Regions from separate parts of the Homo sapiens genome. Here region 1 is reported to be linked to region 2. Evidence: microRNA targets listed by miRTarBase, many of them from high-throughput screens and not tested one by one. Region 2 holds a microRNA gene; the other region holds the end of a gene's coding sequence.
Evidence for each region. Region 2 holds the annotated microRNA hsa-miR-4315 (CCGCUUUCUGAGCUGGAC, at 1,124-1,141, opposite strand). A microRNA usually pairs through its seed, bases 2 to 8, with sites in the 3' UTR of a target mRNA and lowers its output. Matches are read on the target gene's strand: a 7mer-m8 pairs with bases 2 to 8, a 7mer-A1 pairs with bases 2 to 7 and ends in A, and an 8mer does both.

Region 1 (3,334 bases), not on the chromosome of region 2:
TGTTACATAATCTGCAGTAAACATAGCCTAATGTACACAATTCTCTCCTGAAATACTTGATAACAAACAACTTAAACTGGAAGTCAAAAGTAATATGTAAAATAAGATATGATCTACAGCTGTATCAAGATTATTAATTACTCTAAGTGACTGCCTCTATGCAGAGTCGCTGGTTCATTAGCACATATATTTATATACTATAAAATTTAAAACAGGGACATACATGTTTAACTATAATGTGATTGCTCCATCATGCAAATATGTATGTCCTTTCCATTAAAAGTTAGCTTAAAATTCCTATATAATATACCTTGTCTTTTTAATAAAATGTTTTTCCTTAAAATTCTCAACTTTTATTTTTAAAATATAAAAACAGAAAAATCAGTATATACAATTCCATAAACAGTATGGTTAACTGAGAAAGCAATTATATAGCATACAAGCAAGTAACTTACAAAGACATAGAGATCTATAAAATATACATAACTATAAAATTCATGTAACAGCATTACAACATATAATTTAATATTTTAACATTTTCAAAAGGTCTTTTAGAATTACAAAGACTATTAAGCATAGGATTTCAAAAGTCAGTTGTGTTGTGGATGTTTGAAATGTCACTTCTCTTAAATGCTCTTTTATTAAGTTTAACACTAAATAACAGATTTTACTATACCAAAATCAAAGAAGAATGCAGGCAGTCAGGCAAATCCAAAAGCAGAATGATTTACTGTGTCACCAATTCTAACAAAATACACCAAAAAAAATCTCATAAATAGAGCTATTTCCTACAAATAACCACATGTGAATGCTTATGTTAGGAAGATTAAGATTAATACTAAGAGTATGCTGTCATGTTAACACGTTACATTCCAAAAGTAGCTTCCCTTTTTTTTTTTTTTTACAGTATAACAGACTATACATTTTCTGATTATAGTAACAGAAAAATGTGACATGCCAACATTAAGAACAGGTTTCTTAAGAACTAAATAAAAATTATCAATGAAAAACACTATATGCATATTGAGCACCCCCAGTATTAGTCATTTTTAACAAGAACAATTTGTAGGGTTTAAGATGTCTATAGTTGGATAAATTTTTCCAAGAAAAAGATATGTGACAAAAATAGTGTTATAGACTTATTTCTGCCAAAATGTCTTCTAGCATATTGTTTTAATTTTAATAACCTAATTTTTAAAAAAATCAAGAAATAAAGAATTTAGCCAGTGAAAATAGCACTAGAGGTTTACACATATTTTCCCTCTCATGTTTTAGTATTAAGTTTTAGTACCTTCTCACATCTTGAAAAGTGCAACTTTGAATTTGTTGGGTTCACATGTATCACACTTCTCATGTTGCTGCCAAGTATAGATGGATACAGTGATATGTCTAAAGTCATATTCTACAAAGTAAATATTTTCATTTTGAATCACTTATTTTTTCTAATTTATGTTATATTAACATAGAAAATTTAAAATTATGAAGTTGAAAACAACTCATAAAGTTGTCTCTTTTCTCTGTATTCCCAGGAAGAAATGACTAGCAAAGAATTTAGAAAGAATGATTATAATACATGTAACTATTAAATAACATATATTTAGAAGGAAATGTTTCAATTGTTTGTTATACTAAAACAGATGTTTAGAATATCATACATTCATTTTAGGATACAAAATATGCTTTCACATTTTAGGCAATAATTACTGAACTATTCCTTGGATTCATATATGCAACAATATACTTTTAGGATCTTTGTTTAATAAGATAATGTATTGATTTTAATAAAGAACATTTCCCTTTCATATTGCTCAATAACAATCGTATGCTGGTAAAAAGGATTACAGTTAAAAAGCAGAATAAAAGAACAAATACAACTGGGCATTAGAATAACTACATTGTGCTCTATTTAACCAACAACAGTACATAATTTAGAAGACAGATTTAAAAGACAAGTCAGTATTTAAATGAGCATCATGGGGTAAACCTCCATCATTTGAAATATTCTATATACAGAAAACATCTATAATCACACTGCTTGAAAAATTTCTCTTGCATATCCTTTAATATTTTCATGTGTTAAAAACACATTGAATTATCTCACTGGCTTTGGGCCCAATTCTAATTTATCAAATTGACCATGGTGGCAAATATATTCTGAGGAAGAGGTAGCAAAAAACAATGTGAAAGGACAGGAAACTTGGTTAATAAATAGATGTTGCCATATTGTTTGATGCAGATGTAACTTTCCTACTGAAGTTAATAAAAAATGACCTCTAAAATATACGCAAGATAAGTAATAAACCAAAAAGATATCTTTACAAATGTAAGGACATGTGAACAGGCATACACATGCACAAACACTAACACACCCCTACATCTATCTTTCTGGATAGTTCTCTTTCCAAATTCAACATTTTTGAGAAAACAAAACAAAACAAAACAAACAAACAAGAAACCAGAATAAAGGAAGTCCTAGGAAAATATATTCCAGTGTTTGATCATCCTTTACATTGATATCATCTCTCCAATAAAATGCTTAGTGTTGATGACATATGTATTATTAAAGACTAAATCCCCCATGGAGTACGTAAGATGTTAACAAAGTCTTCATCATCTACTATTCCTATACTTAAACCTTCATAGTAATCTTCAAATTCACCATATGACACTTCATCAGACTTGCTGCAGGCAACTTTTAATGTTTCTAGAAAGGATGATTTGATTTCTTCCTCTGTTGAATGGCCTATAAAATAGTACTGAGTATGAAACAGTTTCCTGAAAAGTTCAGTGAAATGACTGATGATGATAAAGGAATACTTAATCATCTTATGAAATACTTTCAACAATTTGAAATCTTTTGTCAAACTACCAGCCAATTTATTTACACATGAACTGGAATTATTTCATCTCATTCGATTTGCCACTCCTTCCCTGCCCCCTGCTCTCCTGCACTGATCTATCTCCAGGATCCCAGCACAGAACACAGTTTTTTTGATCATAAATTTTTAAAAAGAACAGAGGAATTGAAAGATGAAAGGAAGCTATAGTGACTGGTCAGATAACACTGAAAAGAGAATAAACAGAGGCCCATATATAATAGTAGAAAAAGGGTCAAAAATTTCTATGTGACCCTCTAAAACGTTTTAAAGTCAGGTTATGCTTTAAATAACAGGCTTAGATGGGAATACTACTCAAACCATTTGTCTAATGGGGTGGACAAAATTAAGGTGAGAGTTAATTTTTTTTCCCTCAAACCAGAGGTTCTCTAATGGACTTAGACAATAATGCATTGCAAAGGGTCTTTCAAACTAAAGGAATGAAATCTACTTTGAAT
Region 2 (3,417 bases):
CTGACCTTGTGATCCACCTGCCTTGGCCTCCCAAGGTGCTGGGATTACAGGCGTGAGCCACCGTGCCCAGCTGCAAAAAAATGTTTAAAAGGCTGTGTGAAGAAGGCTCTGCCCAGTTCTCTCTTCAGCCTAGTTCATCTGCCCCACATACTCTTCCACACATCTGTCTGTCCCCACCTGTCCACCACCTCCTGCATGCAGCACTCAGGTCCTGTGTCCCCCAGGAGGTATTCTGTGAAGTCACACTCTTATGCGTTATGTTTCATCTATTTGTTGGACGTTTTAAATGTACTCTGACCTATTAGTTTCCTTCCTTCTAGATGAAGACAACAATATTTTACACTGTGCCTTGTAGAGACTAAGTATCTTGTTTTTTTGTTGTTATTGTTTGTTTTCAGTTTTTGTTTTATTTATTTATTTATTTTTAATTTAGAGGCAGGATCTTGCTACATTGCCCAGGCTGGCCTCGAACTGCTGGGCTCAAGCAATCCTCCTGTATCAGCCTCCCAAGTGCTGGGATTTCAGGCATGAGCCACCGCACCCGGCCAAGTAACTTGCTAAAAGTCACCGGGGCAGAGCTGGAGCCCAAACCAGCTCTAAGCTGTTCTAAGTCCACTTTCTCCACTATGCCTGTATTGCCTGCTACAGTTCCCAGCTACTCCAGTCCCTGGAGAAGTCGATGACTCCCTTGGCTTTCTTTAATTACTAATAGAGTTCAGTAACAGACAATCACATGCTATGGGAAGAAAGGGAGGAGGAGAGGAAAGAAAGGAGGGAAGAGAGAAGATGGGAAGGAGTGGGGGCAGCGTACTCACTCTTGCAGAGACCGGTCTGAGTCCTCAGCATTTGCTGTGCCCAGGTCTGAGTCACAGGACATGGGCTCCTCGCAATGGTCTGGACTCTTGGAGCCATTCTCTTGGAGTAAGCAGCTATCAGAGTTTAGGCTGCAGGACAGCTGGGATGAACTGGCCGTGTCCAGGCTGAGGGAGGAGGCAGTCAGCTTCTGGTTCCTCCGTATCTTATGGCCCGAGTGATGGACTTCGATGTCTTCAGAGCCTGAAGAATGGGAAATGGAATCCAGAGATTCCTTCCGCTGTAGTTCTGCACCAGAGGTAGAGAGAGGGTCCAGCTCAGAAAGCGGGCAAAGCCCAGACAGGGCCAATGGGGTGAGCGTCCACTCATTTAAGATGGCAGACTTGTAGGAGAGTTCGAAGGACAAGGACGTGAGGCCCTGCAGGAAGCTAAGGAGGAACTCGCCCTCCTCAGCATCCCGGAGCAGGGCGGTGGGCTGGTAGTACTCATGCAAGCGGGCCTGCTCCTGCAGCAGCAGCTTCAGGTAGCACTCCATCAGGCCATCGTTCAGGGCCAGCCGCAGCCATGCCCGGCAGCGGCCCACATCCGTGTTGACAAACGTCAGGTGCTCCAACTCTGAGATGATGTGTCTGGGAAGGGAGAACAGACGTGTTTCAAGAAACTACCCCAAATCACAGAGATGTGCTTTTATCCACTGGTTAGCAGGAACCAGGAATAACTACTGCAAATAGATACAGGCATGAAAAAATATTGGGTAATAGTGTTTTAGGCCAGATGTGGTGGCTCACACCTGTAATCCCAGCACTTTGGGAGGCCAAGGCAGGTGGATCACTTGAGCTCAGGAATTCGTGACCAGCCTGGGCAACAGGACGAAACTCTGTCTCTACAACAACAACATAGCCAGATGTGGTGGCTTGCACGTGTAGTCCCAGCTACCCAGCTACTCGGGAGGTTGAGGTGGAAGGATAGCTTGAGCCTGGGAAGCAAAGGTCACAGTGAGCGGAGATTGGACCACTGCACTCCAGCCTAGGCAATATATATATATATATTTATATTTATATATAATAAATATATAAATATAAATTATATATATTTATACATTATATATATATATATATTTTGAGATTGGAATTGTGAAAGATAATTTCCATGTTCATTCCAACTACCACGGGGCCCCTGACACATCTGCTCATCTAAGGCATGCTGTCAGAGCTCCTTAAGTGCAAAGTCCTTGGAGCAATGAAGATGCAGGGTAAAGACATGGTCCCTGCCCTCAGGCACAAGGGACTGATGGAAAAAGGCATAAAGTGTAGGAAATCAACAACCCTGTAAGAGGATTGGGGAGCGCTCCAATTACAGCATGTGGCGGAAAAGTGGGTGGTTTGGTTGCAAGGCCAGGAAAGAGAGGGTCTTAAATATCAAATCAATAAGGCAACACGGGGTAATGGCCCCACACCCAGCTGTGCACCAGAACCCCCTGGGGAACTTGAGCAGGATACAAGTTCTGGGACCCCAACCTAGTGAATCAGTCTCCAGGCTAGCATCTGGGAGCCTGTAGGCTACAGATTTTTGTTTAGAAAAGTGACTTGACCACAGTCATGCAGACTGCAGGGTAGATGTTCTGCATAAGGAGATCAGACCCCAGGTGTACCAAACTCAGTCCCAGAATGCCTCCGTCTGATGTACATGCCCCTCTGAGCTACCACAGTCCCTAGCGCAGGTTTATCTCCTCCATGGGAATGTAGACCGCACTCTACTAGGCTCAGTGAGTAAGCTCCAGGGAGCTTCAGCTCAGTAAATGTTGACCAGATGATGGACTCAAGGAAAGACAGAGTGAGATAAGGGGGACAAATAGAAAGCCAGTGTCACCCAGGAAAGAAGAACGTGAGACAAGGCAGTGGCAATCTGCATGGAAAGGAAGATTAGAGACTGACAAGGCTTCTTTTGGGCTGAAGGTGGCATTTAGTAGTCCTCAGAGGCACAGTGCCAGCTACTTGCTCAAAAGCCCAGACAGTTAGGGGCCAAAGAGATAAGTGTCTCAGGGTGAATATTCATATGCTTTTCCTGATTCCACTCTTTATATAATCCCAGCACTTTGGGAGGCGGAGGTAGGCAGATCACAAGGTCAGGAGTTTGAGAGCAGCCTGACCAACATAGCAAAACCCCTCTCTACTAAAAATACAAAAATTAGCTGGGCGTGATGGTGCGCGCCTGTTGTCCCAGTTACTCAGGAGGCTGAGGCAGGAGAATTGCTTGAACCTGGGAAGCAGAGGTGCCAGTGAACCGAGATCGCGCCATTGCACTCCAGCCTGAGTGACAGAGCGAAACTCCATCCCAAAAAAAAAAAAAAAGATTTACAATTCGGATGTTTGAATAATCTAAGGCAGGGTCAGCAAATCCAAGGCAGGGTCAGCCCTTCTGTAAAGGGCCAGATAGTATATTCTTCAGGCTTTGCAGGCCACACAACCTCTGTTGTAACTATGTAACTCTGCCCCAGTGTGGCAAAAAAGGCTGTTCCTGCTAAAGGTGGCCAGTCTCACCTGCTTTTTGTGACCAGTCTCAAAGCAGCCACAGGCTCTTGCCTGAGTGCTGAGGGTCTCAAGA

Region 1: miRTarBase lists CAPS2 as a target of hsa-miR-4315. The part of its 3' UTR that is shown has no 7-base or 8-base seed match.

What each region holds. Positions count from the first base shown.
Region 1 is chr12:75,276,323-75,279,656 of GRCh38, forward strand. It overlaps CAPS2 (calcyphosine 2), which reads right to left. Exons shown (of 17, transcript NM_001355024.4): 17 at 1-2,743. The coding sequence ends at 2,568. All of the region lies in intron 2 of CAPS2-AS1 (CAPS2 antisense RNA 1), which reads left to right. Among named protein-coding and RNA genes, the nearest start is that of CAPS2-AS1, 20 kb to the left of the region's middle.
Region 2 is chr17:45,474,285-45,477,701 of GRCh38, forward strand. MIR4315-1 (microRNA 4315-1) reads right to left here and starts at 1,151; the gene lies at 1,079-1,151. It overlaps PLEKHM1 (pleckstrin homology and RUN domain containing M1), which reads right to left. Exons shown (of 12, transcript NM_014798.3): 4 at 816-1,442.